Homo sapiens: one gene and its partners. The protein of the gene in region 1 purifies or fractionates together with the protein of each later gene. This does not show direct contact. Each region holds a gene or a part of one and is shown in the gene's direction. Other genes may lie near its edges.

Region 1 (3,500 bases):
TTCTTCTGCCTCATCCTCCCTTTCGACACTCAGGCTGCCCTGCTCGGGCCACTCTTAAGCACAGAAACTTTACATGGGTCCACCACATCCATAAAGAAGACCACACACCTACACGGGTGTCTGTTCTGCACGTATTTTGCAACCTTCTCTTCCCCACATCTACCAGGGCCTCTTTGAGGCACTAACTTACACCTTAAGTAGCTGGCAGTTTGACTGACTTTAAACAAAGAGGCCTTTCTTGTAAGTGAGGCCAAGTCCTCCACCAGAATACAGTCCATTATGTTTGGGAAACGTTTGGTTATATTTACATGGTGTTTGGCAGGTCACAATCTCTTTAAGTGTGTGCTGTGTTCTTATGCTGGGTGACAAATTTCCAAGCCTCCCTTGGTTTCTCTTCCCTGGCGTGTGTTGAGTTGCTTTTTGGTGGTATTTCAAGAAATCCAATCTGCATTGATCCACTTCACATGAGTGAGGTACGAATCATTTGCTTTTAAAGCTGTAGTTGAGGAAAAGGCTATAAATAAACCAGAACCAACAAAGTTGAGAGAAATGGGCAGGTTAGATGTTGTCATACTTTGCCTTTTTCCCCTTTAGCTCAGGCAGAGGTAAAAATAAGGAATGTATGCAAATAGGTCAGGTACCCTGCAACCCTGTTAGCAATTTTGGAACAAAGGCAGGAATGGAGAAGTTGGCAGTGGTTTTCACCTCTCACATGTGCATGAGGGAATTCACACTGAGTGCTCTCAGCCCCCCGCATCGGCTCCCTGCAGACGCAGGAGGTGGGCCTTTTGCTCACCTTTAGCCAAGGACACAGACAGTTAGCTAGGCATGAGTTACCAAGGGATGATTGCATTGCCATCTGCTGTAACAGTTTTACAATGTTAATATATTGTTTGCAACAACTAGATGGAGGTCAAGTCTTTCTTGATGATTTTGTCACTCCTGACCTTGGCTAAATTTTAATTGCTGACCTTAGAGGAGAAAGTGCTGCTATTCCATTTTAATCCAAATTATGGCCTTCAGCTCCCTTCTTGCTACTCTCATTTATTTTTACTCAATAGATTTTACTCAGTTTTTATGACGCAACTCAACATTACATCCTTCATGTTTCATAAAACAAGTTAGAAATCACATACAACAAAATGTATAATGTTTAGTATTAGCCCATAGTATGTCTTCTGATAGTATCGGCATATATATGTGACTAATATGGAAACTCATCTGTCCCTTAGCATTGTAAACAGGAAGTAGAATGAAGATAATTTTAAAATACTTCATAAATTTTATTTAAAAGTTTAACTTAGTCTAATGTTAATTCGCCAATTAGTAGTTCAGAACTTGGGATGCATTTTCCTATTAAAGATGGTTACAGATTATGGTGATGTCTCCAGACTAACCCATGAAAGTCTACTCAGCCTTTGATAGCACCACTGTATGGGCTATAAATTCCCCCCCCAGCCCCTAAAAACGGAGAGAAAAATACAAAATTGAGCACATTGTTTTAAAATTTTTGTGCGTCGAATATTAATTAAATTTGACTTTTCTTTCGGAACTAGAGAGTGATAAGGAGATATAGAGGGTGTTTCCGGCTTTGAAGAGGACTTTCAGGACATTCGCCCGTTCTGTTCATTTCTGTTGCGAGATTAACATATGCTTGTAGGGAAGGACAATTTAAGAGGACAGAAAGGTAAAAATCAGCCTCATCTTCAAACTGTTGTCCCACTCCTTAAAGATAAACATGGCTAAAAGTTTCCTTCTGGAAATGTTCCGTGTGAGAGTGGCCGGTCTGAATATATTCCAGAGCCAGATAGACCTCCGTCTTAGCATGGTGTCAGAGGATTGAAAGTAAACAGTAATCCTAACCTTCGCCAGAAAACATGAACAATGGTTCCATCATAATACACAGAATGTTTTTTTAAAGCCCTGCTTCCCCCATTCCTTTTATTCTGCTTTCCCAGTTACTCTCAACTCTCTTCCCTTCAGAACTGTTCACGTGGGCTCTTCCACTTTCTCCTGCACTTCTGCGTTTTTCCTGCTTGTCTTGCTGGGGGAAAGACTCATTTCCAATAGGTCTTTTAAATATGCCTGCTGAGGTGGTGTATGGAGGAGTGGGGATTAGAGAAAAGGAAGGGAAGCCAAGCCAAAGGTCCTCCTTAGTGTGCGGGAAAAAGAGAGAGAGAGAGAGAAAAGGATAACTCCCTAGCCCATGTTCTGTAACTTTTTTCACTTTACAAGAGAGTGTAGACATCTGTCTAGATTAGCTCCAGATTAGCTACCTTATTCTTTTTAACAGATACATAGTATTTCATCTCATGGATATGCCATAATTTTTAGATCAATCTCTGTCGTTTCCATTTATGTGTACTGTGTCAAACAGTGCCATGATTAATTGAATCCATAGGGTAAATCCACATGAGAAATTCCTAAGTGGTAACTTGGTACATCAAAAGTTAGGTCCCCCTGCTCTTAAAGTGAAAGTTATATTTATTTTAAATTTGGATAACCATTTCCAAATTGTACCTCCCCCACCACACACACTAAAATGTCACTCTTTCCTCAAGAAAATATGAGAAGAGATGACGTTGACTTCCGTTGTTTCTGATCTAAAGCCATTTCAAAACGTATTAGGGCCTTCATCTCTTCTTTCATCAAAGCCCACATTATAGGGTAAGATTTGTTGATATTAATTTTGTTGTCCATAAATAGTATTTTTGTGCTGGTGGGAATGACACTTTTGTGACGTACCTGGGAAAAAGGCAGAAGAACAAGAATGATGAAGAGACTTAAGTTGTGATCAGAGAAAGAGGCAAGGGAGGTGGGCTATGAAATCTCCATCAAGGAGAAGAAAGCTGATAAGAGTGAGATTTCAGCTCAGATAGTTTTCTGTGCTTTGTTGTCAGAAAAAATGGGGGCAGGTGGAGAGAGTGGAAGTATAATGCAGCTGGTAGTTTGTGTACCTGCCATGGTTACAAATCAGGGGTTTGTAACTGAGAGATTGTCAGTTAATTACATAGCAGCCCCATTCGTTTTTAATTTTGCGGGGGATTTTTTTTTTCTCCTTTTTTTGAGAAGGTTTGGAAGATAGGTTGATAAACTATGAGATTTCCTCATAACAGTACCTTCTACTGTTTTCAAGCAGGCTTTTCTGAAGAACTCCAGTTGTTCTTTCATGGGTTTTTGTCAGTGTGACATTCTGGTACAGGAGTCTGCAGAGCTTGCCGGGTACATGTTATAGTGGGAAGACCTGAGCGCACGTTTGGTGCAGCCACGCGCCCAGCGCTTGCTTTGGGCCTGCCTTCCTGACCCCGCATCCCAGGTGCGTATTACAGTGGGAGGACCTGAGCGCGCGTTCGATGCCGTCACATACCCAGCGCTTGCTTTGGGTCTGCCTCTCCCAATCCCGCATCTCTCCTTGTTGCTCAGATGTTGTTAGCTTGCTCTCTGAGGACGCTTGTGTCATTGTCTCTGACAACGAAGCTCATTCCTAGAGGGCAGGCTGG
Region 2 (2,852 bases), on another chromosome or scaffold:
GGAATGGCTGGGGAAGGAGCAAATGGGAGTGGCCGAGAGCTGGCAGGTGCAGGCCACCAGGGCCACATGGCCCCTTCCTGTCAGCAGATCCCACCAATGAGGAGCAGAGCACAGGGTCCCTCTCGGGTCCAAAGCTCCTGACTCTGAGCCAGGCTGAGGGTCTCACTGGCTGTGGGACCTTGGCTGTCACACCTCAGCCTCCCCTCTGTAAAGTGGGCTTGATAGCAGTACCCCAGGGTGAAATGCAGCCAGGGCACAGGCCCGGGCTCTGTGAGGCTCAAGAGCCTTGGGGAACTGTCATTGTCCCTGTGTAAGCATTTCCAGAAGGTGCTCCCTGGTGAGGCTGTGTGGGCAGAGAAGCAGGGAGGCCTGGCTCCCCAGAAGCAGGTCAGCTGTCAGGCAGGTGGCCAGGACTCAGCCAGAAGCTTCTGCAGCAAACTGGATACCGCCTCAGAGGCCAGGTCCTCCACGGCAAAGTACTCCAGCTCAGGGCCAGGGCCTCCACAGCAGAGTACTGCCGGCAAGGGGCTCGGACAGCGCGTCTACTCCCTCGCGGTCCCGGAGGCTGGAGTCCAAGATCTCGGTGCCACAGGGCTGGTTTATCCCGAGACCTCTCTCCTGCCTGGCAGACGCCAGCTTCTCGCTGTGTCTGTGTCTTCATCTCTTCTTCATATAAGGACACCAGTCCCATGGGACCAGGGCCCACCCTAATGGTCTCCATTTAAATAAATACCTCTTTAAGGACCCCATCTCCAAATACAGTCTTATCTAAGGTGCAAGGGGTTAGGACTCCAACATATGAAGGTGGCAGAGGCATGACTCAGCCATAACCACAGGGGTGGGAGGGAGGATGTAAAAGGCTGACTCCCCAATCCCTGACCCTCCTCTGCCCTGAATGTGCCCAGGGAATCCCAGTATAGCCATGGTGCTGTGGGGCCCTCCCACTAACAAGCTTTCCACCCCCACCCGCTCTGTTGCCCCTGGAGGGCCATCCCATCTCCACCTCGGCCCTGTGTCCAGCACCTGGTCAAGTACCCAGGGCACTGTCCTGGCTTGTGGGAGGGGGACTTGCTGGCATTGGCACAGCCCCCACGATCTGTCGCCTGTCCTTGCAGGCACCTCTCGGCCATGCTGAGCTCCACGGCACGGGCAGCACAGGCACCGACCCCAGGCCTCCTGCAGAGCCCCCGATCCTGGTTCCTGCTCTGCGTGTTCCTGGCGTGTCAGCTGTTCATTAACCACATCCTCAAATAGGAGCCCTGAGGGCAGAGCTCCTGGCCGGTCCTGAGCCCTCCCTCCCAGGCACCCAGCACTTTAAGCCTGCTCCATGGAGGCAGAGAGGCCCGGCAAGCACAGCCACTGTGACGGGGAGTCCAGGCGCAGGAGGGACCCGGGGCCACAAGGCGCTGCGGGCCCAGGTGTGCTGGGCCCCTCTCAGGGGCACTGGCCTCTCTGCAGGGCCTTCCGCCCAGCGCTGGCCTTAATGCTAAAGCCAAATGCAGCTTCTGCTGTGCGACGCACTCCTGGCCATCTTGCCGTGTCACCCCCTGTCCGGCCTCCACTTGCCATGGGGGATGGATGGATTTAGGGTGGGAGGGCCTGTGGGGGCCCTGGACAGTCACACCCCAGCAGCAGTGAGTGGGCAGGTTTGGAGGAGCCCCGAGTGGCCCAGGAGTCCCCCCACACACAGATGCATAGGCCTGCCTTCCGGAGACCCTGTCCACATTGCCGGGACCACCCTGGTGGGGCCACTGGTGGGTGCCAGGGACAGGTTAGGGCCACTCTGGGGAAGGCATTTTGGTTTTTTATTCCACGCTGTGCTGTTTGGATGGGAGCCCCACAGAGGCAGGTCCTGGAACCACCCCACCCCCACACCTGGACGCTCGCTCTGGTGGGGGCACACGCAGGTGGAGGTGGTTGTGGGTGCAGGTGTGTGCAGGGGTGTGGGGGGCGCAGGGGTGTGGCTTAGCTGGCCCCGCACCCAGGCCGGGGAGGCTCAAGTTCGCCACTTTACTCAGACCGATGCACAGTCTTCCCATTTTACACTTTTTTAATAAACATAATTGCAATATTTTAGGTGGGCTGCGAGCTGCAGTCAGCCTTCACGTCTGGCCTCAGTCCCCGTGTCAGTGCCGCTCTGCGTGTGCGTGTGCGCGTGTGTGAGCCTCTACACATATATATACGTACAGAGCCTTAAACCACATCGTGGCGGTGCCGTCTGAGCTGTAGCGGGTGGCTTTGTTTCCAGTTTTTGTACCCGTGTCCTTGTCTCCCCTCCTCCCCCATCTGGGGATGTGTCTGTGTTCCACACCTTGAAATAAACAGACACATACGTGTTCTCTTCTTGCGGGACTTCTGGAAACGAGAGGAGGGCTTCCCAGGAAGACTCAAGGCCAGCATGGAGCTGTGTGGGGCTGGGTGGAGGGGCCCGGGAGGGAGGAGGGTGCAGAGTTCACAGGGAGCTGTGGGCAGCCTGCCCGCCCTGTGGAGCAAATGCTGGGAGGCTGGCGTCCCATCACCCAATGAGCCAGTGGGGGACACAGAGTGACACTGCCCACAGGCACTCCAGGCACCTCAGAGGCTGCTGGGGGGCATTGGCACAGCCCCTGAGGCCAATGCTGCCAGTTACTGAAGGGGACCCCCCCTGGCTGGACCACCTGGCCCGCTGCCCCTTGCTTCGGTTCCACTGTGGCCACCACCCCTGGTACTCAGACACCAAGGCCAGTGAGTGGGCCTGCTCAGGGTGCCCCTGAAGGCGGGGTGGGGGCACCTGACCACAGGCCTCAAGTGACAGCAGAGGGAGACTGCAGCCCACCCCTCACAGCAACCAGAGGACAAGGGTGATGAAAGGG
Region 3 (3,500 bases), on another chromosome or scaffold:
GATCATCTTACCTGAGCATGGCTATGCAGAGGAAGTAGACACTCAGCCCAAATTGTTTCTCTGACCTGAGGAAGATGTGGGCAATGGATTTGGAGTGGCAGTTTATATACCCCCTGGAAGTGGTGCTGCAAGAAGCTGTCCCCAGCCACATTGCCAAGATAACCTATTAGAAACTGGGGGTAAAGGAAAAGTGCCAACTTGTTATTGTCAGATGACTTCTCTTTTGGTTGACGAGCCAGTTTCTTACTTACAGCATCTTTTGGAGTACTGCTAGTTGGTGACTTACATTGGCAGCAGATGCTGGGACACTTTGTCTAGCCTCCCCAGCATCTGTTTCACCCTCCTTTCTTGTGCCTCTTCCCCATGGTAGATGGAACAGTGGACTAAGGTTTAGGGAATTTTGACCATTTAAGTCTGTTTTCTTAATCTGTCTAACAGAGTTATAATAAAGGTTAATGAGATCATATATATGAAAGCACTCGAGTTAAGAAAAATAGTATTGATTTGATTCACAGAGGAGCTGTCTTTGCTCCTAGAAAGACCTGTCCATTCGAGACCAGCCTGACCCAACATGGAGAAACCTCATCTCTACTAAAAATACAAAACTAGCCGGGCGTGGTGGTGCATGCCTGTAATCCCAGCTACTCGGGAGGCTGAGACAGGAGAATCACTTGAACTCCAGAGGCGGAGGTTGCAGTGAGCCGAGATGGCACCATTGCACTCCAGCCTGGGCAACAAGGGCGAAACTCCATCTCAAAAAAAAAACCTGTCCACAGAAAAATGTTAAGTATAATCTACAGTTAAATACATGCATGGCTGTGAACAGGGTTCAATGTGAAAAAGATATATTTGAGTGTGTATCGTTCCCTTGGTTTGCACAAGTATCCGCAGGGTTGTGATTCACAGGCTTTGGAGACATTGAGTATGTGCACAGTTCATCCACGTGCTCAGGATTTTTCAATAGATATGACTTGGGTGGGAGAGGGAAAGGCATGGATAAGTGACCCAATGAAAGAGATGTAATATGAGAGTTGTGCATTTTTGTCTAATAAGCATTTTCATTTTGTTTATTTTCTTTTTAGCCCCAACAGTACTTACCGATGTTGATCCTAAAACCAAGGTGATGCAAGAAGAAATTTTTGGACCAATTCTTCCAATAGTGCCTGTGAAAAATGTAGATGAGGCCATAAATTTCATAAATGAACGTGAAAAGCCTCTGGCTCTTTATGTATTTTCGCATAACCATAAGGTAAGCTTTAGAGAGAACAGCTAGTTAGCATAAGCAACTGTCAAGAGTCATGTTCCTTCTTTGCTGTAAAACAATGCAAAAAACAATGTGAAACAATGATGGTTTCTTTTGTGTCATGTCAGAGTCCATCCACTAAGTGAGGTTGTGTTCCGAGGTTGCTGTCTTGGTTAATGAGACTCTGGGGTTATCACAGCATCCATTCCCCTCCTCCCTCGGGTTAGATCTGAGTCTGCAGGGTTGAGTGTCACAAGGTTTTTGATTCACAAACATCTCCTGTATAATTGGAAGACTTATATGTGCCAGCATTAAATGCTTTTCTGATGTTAATCCACAGGGCATTGCTGAATAACAGCCTGCACAAAATGGCATTCACACCCACTGTGTGGGACAAAGACCCCGACACTGTCACATAAATGGTTGTGATATGATGGATTTTAGTTTCTAACATGACGCTAGCTTCTTGTTAGAGTGGTGGAACTGCATCACCTGGTTGAGCAGTTCTGCCACTTTCTGCATGGCTCACTCATTCATGTCACTAGGTGACCAGCCGCTACTAAGAGACCATGGCCCAAATGTTTTCTGGAGAGCTTCTGATGGTAATGTATAGATAGTCATGTGACAGCTTTTGGAGCTTGTGAGACTATTGAGATACAGATAGCTACAGGTATTTGAAGTGAGACCAAATGTGTGGGGCTCAGTAAAGACTGGGTTATTAACAAAACAATGGTTTGACATTTAAAACCATGGATAATGTGGGCAGGAAGGAACCCTGAAGCCGAAAGTAGGCTGGCCAGGGTATAAGTCAGGTGTGGAGCACTTCCCAGCAGTGGGTCACCCGAGGTCACTATAGTCCAGACTTGACGTTTGCCATGAACAATTGTCAAGGGCTTGCTGGCACCCAAGGGTAAATGACGTTTACTAGTCAAGTGTTCTTGTGCTTTTCTGAGCCTTAGGCCAAACAACCATTTATTTCTTAAAAAATAGGATGCTAAATCTAAAGTCTTAAATATTTTTACATTTCATAAAGACTAAATAATACCTATTAATCATGTGTTATAATTTAAAGCAGAGATAAGAAAGAAATAATAACAGTTTTTAAAGCTGGAATATAGTCTAAGCTGTCCCCTTTTAAAGAGTCTTTTGCTGCTGTGTTGGGGAGTACAACTCCAGGTTGTGGCTGAGTAGGCCCAGAGGTTTGGAGCTGCCTCCTTTTGTGCACTAGATGTGTGTCTGAGAAGTTGGGTATCAGTCACTTTGCTAAATTAACCAGTTGAGATTGTTTGTCTATCTGGCATGGTGTCCCCAAACTCGAGAATTTTCACTGACACAAAGCCAGAATGTGCATGCTTTGAGCACATAACTGAGCACACAGCCCTCTGTGTGGTGGGGCCATGAGTGTTCCCTAAGGGGCAACTTCACTGACCTGGACACCTTTGGTCTGTCCTCAGCTCATCAAACGGATGATTGATGAGACATCCAGTGGAGGTGTCACAGGCAATGACGTCATTATGCACTTCACGCTCAACTCTTTCCCATTTGGAGGAGTGGGTGAGTCTTATTTTCTCCTGCTTGTAGTAGATATTTCAAAAGCACCACCATTTCATGAGTGGATTGTATGGGCTGCTGAAATAGCCAGCTGTTGCGTACCCTGATTGTCCTCTCCTGAGGGAGACCTTTTCCTGGTCACCCAGTTGACTGGTTTTCCTGCTTCCCCACCCACCCCTCCAGCATAGGGCAAATGTCTTGTCACTCTCTTTCTGTCAGCAGCACTGACTGACCACAGCTTTGTTCACTTCGTTGATTTTGTTATCCTGCCACATTTAGGAGATTTGGGAACCAAGAATCAGGTCTCAAATTAATTAAGAAGATCTCTCTTCGTGTGTGTGTGTGTGTGTGTGTGTGTGTGTGTGGTGTGTGTGTTTAATGAAGTAGCAAATGAAAGGTTCGGAATACCAGGGACAGAAGGTAGAGGGGTTTTCTAATGTGCCTTTGTTTTCTGCTCAGTTCTTACCTGCATTGTTCCCCAGCCCTTTGTTGGGAGGAGCAGCCTCTCCTTGAATTGTTTTGTGATTTGAGTAAAACGGGACTCCCCCTGTTCTAGAGAGGATGGGCAGAAAGAAATTCATTCCAAGTGAAGCTTTGTGGACATAGCCTGATCCTTGCTTTTCCCTTTAGAACATGACCTGCCTGCCTCTCCCACATGTGAGATGACTGACTCAGCTTTTTATTTCTCCTTTGGGACCTAGGCTAG
Region 4 (3,500 bases), on another chromosome or scaffold:
TATGTTAATTATAACTGTATATAATTAACATGTTACTTCATTAGGTGGTTATATACAGATCTGTATTTCCTAACCTGCAAACTTCCAGAAGGTTTCAGATATATTTTGGAATTTATTTGGACTTTAGAGAGGGTATATAATTTATGTACTGTGTAATAAGAAAAAACTTTAACTTGATCTGGGTTAGTATCCCTGATCAAATACATGTAAAATATATGAATGTTTAAGTTGTATCAAAAAAAAGACCATAAGTCAGTGTAGATCAGATTTTGCTATCCACTGTATGATTTATGAAAGAACTCTTAGTTTTCAGATCTTTTTGGATACAGAAATTGCAGATAAGGGATTGTGGACCTGTAGTTGATGTTTAAGAAAAATAAGACTAAGTTCCATTTTTCAGTAAAAGTTGTCAAATGATTTGAGTCAGAACAGCAGATATGTTTGAATGTGCGAAGTTCAATTAAGTAGCTTTTTATTTTATAGTAAAATATCTGGAAATATATTTGTATGCAATTTCTTTACCAGGTGGATGGATGATGGCCTAGTAAATGATATCACGCCAAAATTGATAGGAGACAGACCTAATACATACATATACACAAAAGCATTGGCAGAATATGTTGTACAACAAGAAGGAGCAAAACTAAATGTGGCAATTGTAAGGCCATCGATTGTTGGTGCCAGTTGGAAAGAACCTTTTCCAGTAAGTTGTTAGAAACCTTTATAAATAACTGGAGTTGAGAATTTTAAGTTGTAACTCTGTATAAAAAGAGCTGGCAGTTCTTTAAGAACAGGTATTATTTACTAAAGGTGAATTACCATGGCAAAGCTGTTTTGTGTTCATAGAGTTAATTTTATTGGTACTTTCATTTCTATAATGTGACGCTGGGTATATAGAAATGTAGATCAACATTTAAAAAATCCTAAGTGAAAATTAAAAGCTGTGACATTTTCTTAAGTCAGAGGAGATTTGGTTTGTTTCTTAGTAGCAAAAAGAGGCAGACCTTCCAGGAGGTAGACCCCTTCCTCTGTAGATCACAAAGTAAAAAAGGTACAGGGTGTTAGGGTATTTGTGAATTCCTGGAATGAGAGAAAGCAGAAATATAAACCAGTTGGGTCAATTGATTTAGGCAAAACCTAGGTCTGTGTAATGGTAGTAAGTGATAGCATCTGTTGTTGCTTTGACAATTATTCTATTTTTCTCTGTTTTATTCATAATTTTGAGGAGGATTTACCATTTTCCCTAATCTCAGGCTATTGAATTAGTAAATAGCATAAAATCAAACTTGAACAAGCTTAATTTTGTAAAAATATTCAACAATATAAACCCTCTTTTATAAATTTCTCTTTGCAGAGAGTTAATGGAAGAGTAGTAGGTAGCCCTTTGAAAATGATTTTACTCAATTATTTTTGATCCCAGAGGAAGACTGCTTCTGTTTGGGACTGGTAGAAATAGTCTGGCCTGAATCTAGTCTGTTTTTTAGTTTTTAGAAGACAGCTACCAAGTATATATTTGGGGTTGTAGAGTTCAAATAATAAATCTCTAGCTTCATAATGTTTCTAAGCTTCTCTCCCTTTTAAAATTTTTGGTATTAGGGATGGATTGATAACTTTAATGGACCAAGTGGTCTCTTTATTGCGGTAAGTAAACCTTTTGATTTATTTAATATTCTATACATTTTTCTGCTTTTTGTATATCTTTAAATATATATACACTATGGCTTATATATCTTAAGGTGTTGTTTTTAATTTCAACAAAGGCAGGGAAAGGAATTCTTCGAACAATACGTGCCTCCAACAATGCCCTTGCAGATCTTGTTCCTGTAGATGTAGTTGTCAACATGAGTCTTGCGGCAGCCTGGTATTCCGGAGTTAATAGGTATATGAGGTGACAATGTCGCTTATTAAATATATAGTAACTGAAAAGGGAAGACATAGCTTTTGAGTAATGTTAATTAATCCCTCTATCCAGATATTGCCATACCAATATTTAGGCTGTATCACTGCCAACTCCAAGAGTTGGTATTATCACAGACAATAGCAAGTGCTCCCATCAGTAGTAATGAAGAATTAATGTTAATGCTCATGTATTACTTACAGGATAGACAAGTTCACTTAAAAATGAAAAAAAAAAAAATACCCTCCCCTAAGCATGATTTTTTAATCCAAACTAAAACTTGTTGAATATATAAAGAGCTGAAATTCACAGAATATGGTTTACATATATTAAACATGGTACACCAGAGCAGCTTTAATCAGCCCATGAACATCTTTCCTTTAAAAAATAATAGTAGCATTTACAGGTAACACTTAAACTTTAAACTTCCCAATAACTTTTTTTTTCTAGGTAGTAAACTACCCTTATTTTTGATAATCAGTATTTTCTGTCCTAAAAAAAGAGAGATAGGATTATATGAATATGTTGTTTCTGGCAAAAGGAAACTTAGTCCATAATTTTTTTTCAGCTAGATCCTCTGAAAATGAGACAAGAAGAGCTGAGGTCATTTGTTGTTTTCCTCGTGTTTAAAAATAGACATTCCTGCTAATATAAGGAGGAAAAATGTGAAAGAAAAAAGTCTGTATTTTTTAAAATAAGTTATTATTTTTGGTAGGGGAAGAAGAAAGGGTAGTTGTAAATAGTCATTAAAGTAAAAACTAATCCTTTAAGGATAATTAAAAAAAAATAGTATAGAAAAGGTGCCCATCATCCTCATGTCTTCTTGAATACTATGTAGGACTTAGATTGGATATGTTTGGCCTCTTATTATGATTAATTGGTTTCATCTTTGTCTTTGCAGACCAAGAAACATCATGGTGTATAATTGTACAACAGGCAGCACTAATCCTTTCCACTGGGGTGAAGTTGGTATGATTTTACCTGTGTTTTTGAATGTTAGAATAAATCTTAAAGAACCAAGTTCCCTGAAGTTTTAATGTTAGAATACCTATGAGGCATTAAGGCCACTGAGTTACCAATTTGTTCTTAATTGTCGTCTTAGAAGTATTATCTACCAATACTACCTTGTGGTCCTTAATAATGTTTCACAAATTTAAAAATATACTGCTGTCTATTCTTACCCACCCACCCTACCCTTGTCTAAGCCTTGCTGTTTTTCTCCTGCCATCTGCAGTAGCCCTCGTAGATACCTATGGCATGGGAACAGTGCTTTTTTTCTCCCTTGTGAGCACCCTCAGTCTTGATGTTGCCTATCCATAGGCAGTATCACTTCTTACAAGAGGTGGTATATCAAGTGGTACCCAGAGTAATAAATGAAGGAGTTAGGAAGTAGGATACAGTTTGCCAGAATATTTTCTATTAACCTGTATTAATCTATTTAAATTCACAGATTCACAGCAGATATACATGTTCCTAGTTCTATAGGAATAGCATAACTTAAATAGGAATAGTTAAAACCCATTGAAATTGAGTCAATTTTAAATTGTTGGTTGATGAGTTCAAATTTAAAGTAAAATTTTTTTGGCATTGATTTAGTGATAGG
Region 5 (3,500 bases), on another chromosome or scaffold:
CTGAGTAGCTGGGACTACAGGCGTCTGCCACCACGCCCGGCTAATTTTTTGTATTTTTAGTAGAGACGGGGTTTCACCATGTTAGCCAGGATGGTCTCAATCTCCTGACCTCGTGATCCGCTGGCCTCGGCCTCCCAAAGTGCTGGGATTCAGAAAAACTCTTTTTTTTTTTTGGAGACAAGAGTTTCGCTTTTGTTGCCCAGGCTGGAGTACAATGGTGTGATCTCGGCTCACCGCAACCTCCGCCTCCCGGGTTCAAGTGATTCTCCTGTCTCAGCCTCCCGAGTAGCTGGGATTACAGGTGCGTGCCACCACGCCCGGCTAATTTTTGTATTTTTAGTAGAGATGGGGTTTCATCATATTGGTCAGGCTGGTCTCGAACTCCTGACCTCAAGTGATCTGCCTGCCTCGGCCTCCCAAAGTGCTGGGATTACAGGCGTGAGCCACTGCACCTGGCCAGAAAAACTCATTTCTACATTTCCCATAGGTTGTTTAAATTGTTATTATTAAAGGAAAGCTCATCTCAAAGCTTCCTCAACAACAAAGCCTTTTATCTTCCACCCCACCTCCCACGCATTCACTGCCCAAATATACCAAGTTTCTCTTTTCTTTTTTCTTTTTTTTTTTTTTTTTGAGATGGAGTTTTGGTCTTGTTGCCCAAGCTGGAGTGCAATGGCACAATCTCGGTTCACCACAACCTCCACCTCCCAGGTTCAAGTGATTCTCCTGCCTCAGCCTCTCGAGTAGCTAGGATTACAGGCATGCACCACCACGCCTGGCTAATTTTGTATTTTTAGTAGAGATGGGTTTTCTCCATGTTAGTCAGGCTGGTCTCGAACTCCTGACCTCAGGTGATCTGCCCGCCTTGGCTTCCCAAAGTGCTGAGGTTACAGGCGTGAGCCACCACGCCCGGCTCTCTTCTTTTTGTTTTTTGTTTTTGTTTTGAGATGGAGTCTCGCTCTGCCGCCCAGGCTGGAGTGCAGTGGCGTGATCTCAGCTCACTGTAACCTCTGCCTCCCGGGTTCAAGGGATTCTCCTGCCTCAGCCTCCTGAGTAGCTGCGATTACAGGTGCCACCACGCCCAGTTAATTTTTGTATTTTTAGTAGAGATGGGGTTTCATCATACTGGCCAGGCTGGTCTTAAACTCTTGACCTTGTGCTCTGCCTGCCTCAGCCTCCCAAAGTGCTGGGATTACAGATGTGAGCCACCATGCCTGGCCTCTCTCTTCTTTTATCTGTAGTAACTTTTTACATGCCTTATGGTATCTAACCATAAGGCAGTGTGTTAGAATATAATATTTTGTATTAATTTTATTTTAAAAATATTTTATATTGATAATGGTTACATATATATTCATATAGTTTCTATGTGTCTAAATTTGGGTTGTATATGTAAGATTTTTGCACTTTATATAGTTATACCTCCAGTTTTTTAAAAATATAAATCTTAAGTCGTGTGTGGTAGCACACCCTAGAGTCCCAGCTATGGGACTACTGAGGTGTGAGGATCACTTGAGGCCAGGAGTTAGTGGCTGCAGTGCACCATGGTTGTCTTATGCATAATCACTGCACTACAGCCTAGGTAACATAGTGAGACTCCCATCTCTAAAGACAGAAAGAAGTTAAATAAATAAATAAATCTTACCTTCCATGTTAGGCTAAGTCCAAGAGATAAGTCACTGTATTTTACCTAACTTTATCTTTTCTATTGAATTGTGTTCTGTATTGCACATGGTGGGCAATCCATATGTGTATGAATTAACCTAAATGTACTTGTGGATTAAGTTGTGTTAAGTTTATGAAGCAAAATATAATAGCCATAGTGGGAAGTCATTCTAACCATACCTTGAGGATGTTAACATTTGCTGCGAGGCATATTTTTGGTTTATATAAGTCATGGTTATTGACATAGCATCTATCTGAGTAGATATTAAGCAAGGTTAGATATTTTTTCTTCCTTTTTATGTACTCTAGGTACACAGATATATCTGAAAACAAAGGGATATATATTTGGCTGCTTCTAAGACAATTGAGTCTTGATTTATTATGTTTGTCTTTTTTTTTTTAAGATGGAGTCTCATTGTGTTGCCCAGGCCGGAGCACTATCTTGGCTCACTGCAACCTCCGCCTCCCGGGTTCAAGCGATTCTCCTGCCTCAGCCTCCTGAGTAGCTGGGATTACAGGCGCGTGCCACCACGCCCGGCTAATTTTTGTCTTTTGTTTTTGTTTTTTTGAGACGGAGTCTCCCTCTGTTGCCCAGGATGGAGTGCATTGGCGCGATCTTGGCTCCCTGCAACCCCCACCTCCCAGGTTCAAGCGATTCTCCTGCCCCAGCCTCCTGAGTAGCTGGGATTACAGGGGAGTGCTACCACGCCCGGCTAATTTTTGTATTTTTAGTAGAGACGGGGTTTCACCATGTTGTTCAGGCTGGTCTCGAACTCCTGACCTTGTGATCTGCCCACCTTGGTCTCCCAAAGTGCTGGGATTACAGGCGTGAGCCACCGCGCCCAGCCAATTTTTGTATTTTTGGTAGAGATGGGGTTTCGCCATGCTGGTCTCAAACTCCTGACCTCAGGTGGTCCACCCGCCTTGGCCTCCCAAGTGCTAGGATTACAGGCGTGAGACACCGCGCCCAGCCCCAGTCAATTTTTTATCAGGATTGTACTATAGGAATAGTAAGTCTTCTCACTAGAAAATATACCTTGGAGATTGGTCGAAATAAATATTATATTTTAATGTTCCTAAGTAAACATAGGGATCGTTTGTTTCATCAGGATTGTTCTATAGGAATAGTAAGTCTTCTCACTAGAAAATATACCTTGGAGATTGGTCAAAATAAATACTTTTAAAATGCTTAATTATTATTTATCTTTGATGTTGAACATAAAAAGCAGAATTGTTTTCTCCTTTGATGAAGAAACAGTTTCTAGGAATAAAGGAAACTTTAGAACCGATGTCCCTTTTTGTACATCACTTTTTGAGTATTTACTGAATGTAATGTTTGTGTCTTGTAGAATGGAGATGTATGCATTTCGATTCTTCATCCGCCTGTAGATGACCCACAGAGTGGAGAACTGCCTTCTGAAAGGTGGAATCCTACTCAGAATGTGAGGTAAGGAGGAATCTGGTTTTGGAGTTATTCTTAATCTCCTTATTGTCTTTGCTCCTAGTAAAATAAAATTATGTATTGTCTTTTAACATGTAAAAAATCATCTTTCTTATATTCAGTTTCTTTGTCTTTAGCTAGAGCTTTAAGAAATATGTATGCGTCATTTTGAAGAGCTGTATTTACTAAACAATAATGTATATGATTCTCATTTCCCTATGTTCACTTAGGAATAGATTTTCAAGCCTGAATCCCTACTCTTAACTTATCCTAGTTCTACTCTGGTTCTTTATTACCACCTAACATTAGTGTCATTCATTGGTTGCAGTTAATAAACAATGTTAATTCATTATAAGTAACTGAAGTCCATACGCTTTCACATTTCCTTTGTTTT
Region 6 (2,429 bases), on another chromosome or scaffold:
CTAAGGAACCCGGAGCTCAGAGAGGAGACGCCTCTGAGCATGGCTCCCAGCTGGTAAGGGCCTCAGCCCAACTCTCCTGATTTTCAGGCCAGGGGCCACCCTCTCCCCGTCCCTGGAGGACTTGCCAACGCACAGGCGCGCATGCACACCAACAAAGGGTCAGGACTTGAGGAGGATGCCTGGAGCACGCTTCTCCTGGCTGACTGTTTCTTCCTCTCCAGTCGTTTCCTCTGGTGGGCCTCTCCAGGGCTCCGCCGGGGTGTGGCCAAGACCCTCGAGGTGGGGTGTGCTCAGAGCAGGGGGCCTGAAGAATGGCTCCTCTGTTTACAACACACCCAACAGGAAGCTGGGGTCATCGTGATGAGGGGCACAAACTTGTGGCCTCCCTACAGACAAATGCCCTACATGTGGACCCCCTGCACCTCCGCATGGCTTCCGGGGAGGACCAATGGCAAAAGGCTTTGAAGGCCTCACTTTTGCAGGCAGAAGTCCTGGGAGTGGGTTTGGGAATGAGTGAAGGGCTGGAGGGGCAGGACAGTCCTCTTCCAGGAGCTGAGCTGCGGCATCGGGTTGAGGAGGGGCCCCCTGGAACCCATCCGTTCAGCAACAGGTCTGCTTGGCTAGCAGCAAAGTTTACTTTCCTCTCATGCCAAGGTACCTGGAATACAAGAAGATCCCCAACAGCAACCCACCTGAGTATGAATTCCTCTGGGGCCTGCGAGCCCGCCATGAGACCAGCAAGATGAGGGTCCTGAGATTCATCGCCCAGGTAAGGGAGCGCCTCTGTTGGGTGCCCGGCACCGGGGGTGGTGCTCTCCACACCTTGCTTGTTTCTTGGTCGAGGCCTCCTTCCCATTACCCCGTATTCCAGTGAGGGTACCAAACACTCACAGAGGCACCTGAGCACCCTACACAAGGTCACAGATGGGGCAAAATCCCAGGTCTGGCACAGGAGAGTAGGAGCCCCCAATCCCTGTGGTCCTGATTTTTGCCATCATTGCACAAAGCACACGGGAGGGGGTGAGGCGGGCCGCGGGTGCTCAGCCAGTGTGGGGTAGCTCTGTGTCTATGCCTGCCCTTTTCCTCCTCAGAATCAGAACCGAGACCCCCGGGAATGGAAGGCTCATTTCTTGGAGGCTGTGGATGATGCTTTCAAGACAATGGATGTGGATATGGCCGAGGAACATGCCAGGGCCCAGATGAGGGCCCAGATGAATATCGGGGATGAAGCGCTGATTGGACGGTGGAGCTGGGATGACATACAAGTCGAGCTCCTGACCTGGGATGAGGACGGAGATTTTGGCGATGCCTGGGCCAGGATCCCCTTTGCTTTCTGGGCCAGATACCATCAGTACATTCTGAATAGCAACCGTGCCAACAGGAGGGCCACGTGGAGAGCTGGCGTCAGCAGTGGCACCAATGGAGGGGCCAGCACCAGCGTCCTAGATGGCCCCAGCACCAGCTCCACCATCCGGACCAGAAATGCTGCCAGAGCTGGCGCCAGCTTCTTCTCCTGGATCCAGTAAGAGTTTCGGTAGAGAAATGAGACTCTGCAGGAGGGCTGCGGAGGGGGGTGAGATGTCAGAGGGAGGGCCAGGGTGGGGGCGCTGGGGGCAACGGCAACAGCATGGACGGACACTTATTTTGTTACGTACACCCCTCCCTGGTTCGCGTGTGTCCACGGATGTTGTCACTTTGGTTTCTTGTGCTTTTATAGGCACCGTTGACGAACTGCAGCGATCTTACTGGCCAAGCCAGAGCGCCTCCTCTCAGATTCCTTCTCGACACAGCACCCTAGGCGGCTTCTTCCTGTCAGTCGGAGGTGGCATGCAAGATGAAGCTCTCTTTGCTCTTCCTGCTTTCATTTTGTGCTTTTCCTTGTGTTTTCATGTTTTGGGTATCAGTGTTACATTAAAGTTGCAAAATTAATTTGGATGTTTCTTCCTTTACCTGCACACCCATTGCTATACCTGGCCACGCTTGGGCTTGTAGCAAGGAAACTTCTTCAGGCTCTCTGGGGTAGGTGGGCCCCACCTCTGCCAAAAAGGCCCACAGGGACAGGTGGGATGCTGGGAGGTGCGGAGGTTGGTTACGCCTGAGTGCGTGAGCAGGAGTTTGGAGAGGCCCCAGTGCTCATCGTTATGTGATTTTCTACAAACCTTGCTCAGCAGCCCCAGGGACATGGCAAGAGTCGGGGCCACAGCAGGGGCGGGGTGGAAAATTGCAGCTTGGTGCCACTGCCCCTCCCGCCGAGGGACAGGGTCCAAGGCTCTCACCAGGACCCACCTCCCACACCCCCTCCTTGGAGATGATGTTCCGGAACCCTTGGCTCATCATCCACACAGTTCAGGACCCCGTCCTCGGTACAGAGTCTGACGGACAATGAGGTGGGCCCCGCAGTGATGTTCGCAGCCCTCCAGTGGGTAGAA
Region 7 (4,086 bases), about 140 Mb from region 1:
GTGGGCTCAGGAGAAGGGGGCCTCCCCACTGGATAAGGGGTTGAGGGCACTGTTGGTGCCATCTCCTGCCTTGAGTCCTCGAGCTCTGGGTCAAACAGAACTTTAGGTGCTGGCTTCTCTTGGCCGGTGGAGCGAGAACTTTCCTGAAATAAATGTCCCTTTGCTACTACTACTGCTGCTGCCTGTCCTTTTACCACTGTAGAGGATCTAAAACTAGCTGTAACTAGGAATCTCTATATGGAAATTGATATGGGTGCAGGCACACCATGAGCGATCAGGCCAAGCTTCCGCTCAGGTGGAGTGGGGCAAGTTGAAAAGACTTGTCTTACTAAGTTTCAGATGTCTGGACTCCAAGTGCCAGTTCCTTCCTGGTGTTCAGCCACTGTGTTAATCCTCCGCGGGGATCACTGCTCTGGCGAGGCGTTCAACCGGGGCCATTTCCTACCTGGGAGCGCTCTTTGGATCCCATCCCTCAGGCTGGCCAGAGTCCCTGGCAGCCTGAGGGATGCCCCGGCCTTACTCCACAAGGCATGCCTAATCTGCCTAAGGAGCTGCCTCGGCCGTCCATCAGTTATCTTGCTTCCAGGTCAGGGAACCAAGAAATGTAGCAGGACAAGCGGCAGACAAAACTCTCAGACACCGAGTTGTAGAAGGAAGGGTGTTATTCACCTGGGAGCATCGGATAGCTACTGTCTCAAAATCCGAGCTCCCCAAGTGCACAATTTCTGTCCCTTTTAAGGGCACACAACACTAAAGATGTCACATGAAAGGGTCGTGATTGATTTGAACAAGCCAGGGATATGCGACAAGGACTACATGCACCCGTGGTCAGGGAGAAACAGAATATGGAAGGGAGTTTCACAATGTTCTTCTATACAATGTCTGGAATCTATGAATAACATCGGCTTCTAAATCATAAGTTGATTTGTAACTACTGGGTTTAGGCCAACCAGGCCCAGGCCTGGTTTTGTGCCTTTGATTTTGCTTCCTTGTTGTTTTTACTGAATAGAAAACAATATAAAACAAGAGGACAGGGTCTTTCTCTCTTCTCAATATCAGCACTGGATTGTAGAACTTGTTGCTGATTTTGGCCTGGCATTCAAGTTAACTCTTCCCCTTGGTATCTGTACATACCTTTGATGTCAGTGTTTAGTACACGTGGCTTGGTCACTTCATGGCTAAAAACGTGCTTGTGGAAGACAAGTCTGGCTTGGTGAGTCTGTGTGGTCAGCAGTCTCTGATCCGTGCAGGGTATTAATGTGTCAGGGCTGAGTGTTCTGAGATTTATCTAGAGGCTGGGAAGGGCTCCTGAACCAGTTGTTTCCGTCTTGTCGGTCTGTCAGGGTTGGAAAGTCCAAGCCATAGGACCCAGTTTCCTTTCTTAGCTTACGTTATCTACCAGAGCACCGTGGGCTGTTACTTGCCTTGAGTTGGAAGCGGTTCGCATTTATACCGGTAAATGTATTCATCCTTTTAATTTATGTAAAGTTTTTTAGTATGCAATTCTCGATCTTTTAAGAGTTGACAACAAATTTTGGTTTTCTGCTGTTATGTGAGAACATTAGGCCACAGCAACATGTCATTGTGTAAGGAAAAATAAAAGTGCTACCATATGCAAAAAAAAAAAAAAAAGAAAAGAAAAGAAACATTAATGTCTAAGAGGTCATTGAGATGATTTCCATGAGAGACTTTTTGATGTTCTTCACCAGTTAGGATTATTATTGATAATCCTTTTCAGATTATGAATAAACAGTTTGCCCTCAAGTATTTATTCATGCTACTATTTACATTGTAAAATGTGCTTCTTACAGGAATATAAATAGTTTCTGGAAAGGACACTGACAACTTCAAAGCAAAATGAAGCTCTTTTGGTTGCTTTTCACCATTGGGTTCTGCTGGGCTCAGTATTCCTCAAATACACAACAAGGACGAACATCTATTGTTCATCTGTTTGAATGGCGATGGGTTGATATTGCTCTTGAATGTGAGCGATATTTAGCTCCCAAGGGATTTGGAGGGGTTCAGGTGGGTATGATTCATAGTATCAATTGCAGAATTCACTGTGCTTGTAGTAAACACTATTCTGATCTTCTACGTGAAGCTTGGGCAACATTTTACTTCACAGGTAAGTATTCTAAGTAAAAGAATTTTCTGAGGAAAAAACAATGTAGTATTCTTTGCAACTGTATATTTTGTTTCTGATATAATCTTTCTTCAACAAGAGCCCTCCGATGTGCTGTTAATATTTTCAAGAGATAGCTGCCTATACCAAGATTCAAGAATCTTTTGTATTATTGATTAGATTCTAGAACATTCAATGATATACAGTAAGACAGAATTTGGTACTTATGAAGACTGTTTAATTTGTAGGTCTCTCCACCAAATGAAAATGTTGCCATTCACAACCCTTTCAGACCTTGGTGGGAAAGATACCAACCAGTTAGCTATAAATTATGCACAAGATCTGGAAATGAAGATGAATTTAGAAACATGGTGACTAGATGCAACAATGTTGGGGTAAGTGAATTCTAGTTTCCTTTAAAAATAACAGATAGGAAAATGATTTCTGTCTCTTCTTTCTTGCTCCTTTTGAGCAGAAAGTTTTCCATATCAGTTTTAATTTTACTTCATACTTTAAAACTCAAAAGTAACTGTCACCTTATGTTCAATTTTTGAAAATATTTGTATATGTGCTCTCTACTAAAGAGATAAGTTAAAGTTTATAGCAGAGTTTACTTCTGAAGCAAAACATCAAATTTTAACCGCTATAACTATCCATATTTCCTGGAAGGATTTTCTGGTGAGGAATTTTAATTCCAGTTACAATATTTGCTCTCATTTTTAGATGACTTGTGTCTCCATTCCTAATTCTTGGGTTTTTTTTGTGGTGAATAGGTAGCTTATCTATTTAATGAGGAGCAGAATTTGAGATGAATAGCTACCTTATTTGTCTTCCAAGCTTAGTAGAGAGTACAGGCTTTCTCCTGGTGACCCACTGAAATTTCCCAAATAGTAACCTTTTCAGTCTCATCTGAGTTGTGTCTCCCCAAAATGGGCTTTTTGCCTTTCCTCCTATTTATGGTAGTTTCCGGTTCTCTCAGTTTATCATTCCTATATATATTTGGCCAAGTGTCTGGAATGAATGTAGGTGTTTAGTTCACATTACTTTCCTTTCACAGTTGATTTTTGATCTTGTAGGAAAATAGTTATAAGGTATGAAATATTTTGGAATTTTATTAGCACACTATAAATTTAATCAATAATTCTTTAAATTTCTGCCTCTCTGTAAGTCACACTGAATTAGAAACTTTGTTTTCTAGGTTCGTATTTATGTGGATGCTGTAATTAATCATATGTGTGGTAATGCTGTGAGTGCAGGAACAAGCAGTACCTGTGGAAGTTACTTCAACCCTGGAAGTAGGGACTTTCCAGCAGTCCCATATTCTGGATGGGATTTTAATGATGGTAAATGTAAAACTGGAAGTGGAGATATCGAGAACTATAATGATGCTACTCAGGTAATTTTTTTACGAGAGTGATCTGAATAAGGAGTGATATATGCCTTTTGTTGTAGACATGTAGCTAATTGAACTTCGTTGTAAATATGAATTTAGATCTCTTAGGGACAGAGGTTAACAAGTTTGACTACTTTAAGAAACTCAAATCCATATTTGAAAACCTTTAAATATTGATTTAAGATTTTTAATCAATACACATTTGTCCACTTTTAAAAAGCTCCCAACCAATTGAAAAACTCATCGACTTTATTTCCTAAGTTCTCTATTTTCTATTAGAAAATATTTCCAAGATACATCTATAGTAGAATGTGAGCATCCCCAGTGTCCAATGCAAGGAAGTCACCATAGAATATCTCTTGAGGAATCATGGAATAAATGAATAATCAAATGGATTCTCAGGCGAAAAGTGAGGTTTTATTAATCAATCATAACATTCTTACCTCAACAGGTCAGAGATTGTCGTCTGTCTGGTCTTCTCGATCTTGCACTGGGGAAGGATTATGTGCGTTCTAAGATTGCCGAATATATGAACCATCTCATTGACATTGGTGTTGCAGGGTTCAGAATT

Evidence for each region.
Region 2: the proteins of SMYD3 (region 1) and OSBPL5 purify together in Homo sapiens (co-immunoprecipitation; one large-scale study listed by IntAct). This does not show direct contact.
Region 3: the proteins of SMYD3 (region 1) and ALDH3A2 purify together in Homo sapiens (affinity purification with mass spectrometry; one large-scale study listed by BioGRID and IntAct). This does not show direct contact.
Region 4: the proteins of SMYD3 (region 1) and FAR1 purify together in Homo sapiens (co-immunoprecipitation; one large-scale study listed by IntAct). This does not show direct contact.
Region 5: the proteins of SMYD3 (region 1) and UBE2R2 purify together in Homo sapiens (affinity purification with western blotting, with the first as the bait; one study listed by BioGRID). This does not show direct contact.
Region 6: the proteins of SMYD3 (region 1) and MAGED4B purify together in Homo sapiens (affinity purification with mass spectrometry, with the first as the bait; one large-scale study listed by BioGRID). This does not show direct contact.
Region 7: the proteins of SMYD3 (region 1) and AMY1A purify together in Homo sapiens (affinity purification with mass spectrometry, with the first as the bait; one large-scale study listed by BioGRID). This does not show direct contact.

What each region holds. Positions count from the first base shown.
Region 1 is NC_000001.11:245,853,280-245,856,779, reverse strand, and holds part of SMYD3 (histone-lysine N-methyltransferase SMYD3), read left to right. Parts: intron 1-3,500. UniProt on the Homo sapiens protein: Histone methyltransferase. Specifically methylates 'Lys-4' of histone H3, inducing di- and tri-methylation, but not monomethylation. Also methylates 'Lys-5' of histone H4.
Region 2 is NC_000011.10:3,086,607-3,089,458, reverse strand, and holds the end of OSBPL5 (oxysterol-binding protein-related protein 5), read left to right. Parts: intron 1-1,115; coding exon 1,116-1,254; 3' UTR 1,255-2,352; downstream 2,353-2,852. UniProt on the Homo sapiens protein: Lipid transporter involved in lipid countertransport between the endoplasmic reticulum and the plasma membrane: specifically exchanges phosphatidylserine with phosphatidylinositol 4-phosphate (PI4P), delivering phosphatidylserine to the plasma membrane in exchange for PI4P, which is degraded by the SAC1/SACM1L phosphatase in the endoplasmic reticulum.
Region 3 is NC_000017.11:19,662,251-19,665,750, forward strand, and holds part of ALDH3A2 (aldehyde dehydrogenase family 3 member A2), read left to right. Parts: intron 1-1,082; coding exon 1,083-1,249; intron 1,250-2,697; coding exon 2,698-2,797; intron 2,798-3,500.
Region 4 is NC_000011.10:13,710,168-13,713,667, forward strand, and holds part of FAR1 (fatty acyl-CoA reductase 1), read left to right. Parts: intron 1-525; coding exon 526-703; intron 704-1,596; coding exon 1,597-1,641; intron 1,642-1,760; coding exon 1,761-1,879; coding exon of another isoform or gene 1,880-1,888; intron 1,889-2,798; coding exon 2,799-2,866; intron 2,867-3,500. UniProt on the Homo sapiens protein: Catalyzes the reduction of saturated and unsaturated C16 or C18 fatty acyl-CoA to fatty alcohols. It plays an essential role in the production of ether lipids/plasmalogens which synthesis requires fatty alcohols.
Region 5 is NC_000009.12:33,897,160-33,900,659, forward strand, and holds part of UBE2R2 (ubiquitin-conjugating enzyme E2 R2), read left to right. Parts: intron 1-3,014; coding exon 3,015-3,112; intron 3,113-3,500. UniProt on the Homo sapiens protein: E2 ubiquitin-conjugating enzyme that accepts ubiquitin from an E1 ubiquitin-activating protein, and catalyzes its covalent attachment to other proteins by an E3 ubiquitin-protein ligase complex.
Region 6 is NC_000023.11:52,061,327-52,063,755, reverse strand, and holds the end of MAGED4B (melanoma-associated antigen D4), read left to right. Parts: intron 1-5; coding exon of another isoform or gene 6-53; intron 54-282; exon of another isoform or gene 283-409; intron 410-654; coding exon 655-769; intron 770-1,091; coding exon 1,092-1,522; coding exon of another isoform or gene 1,523-1,526; exon of another isoform or gene 1,527-1,534; intron 1,535-1,717; coding exon 1,718-1,727; 3' UTR 1,728-1,929; downstream 1,930-2,429. UniProt on the Homo sapiens protein: May enhance ubiquitin ligase activity of RING-type zinc finger-containing E3 ubiquitin-protein ligases. Proposed to act through recruitment and/or stabilization of the Ubl-conjugating enzyme (E2) at the E3:substrate complex.
Region 7 is NC_000001.11:103,654,474-103,658,559, forward strand, and holds the start of AMY1A (alpha-amylase 1A precursor), read left to right. Parts: upstream 1-1,286; 5' UTR 1,287-1,455; intron 1,456-1,811; 5' UTR 1,812-1,857; coding exon 1,858-2,025; intron 2,026-2,370; coding exon 2,371-2,517; intron 2,518-3,320; coding exon 3,321-3,518; intron 3,519-3,966; coding exon 3,967-4,086. UniProt on the Homo sapiens protein: Calcium-binding enzyme that initiates starch digestion in the oral cavity.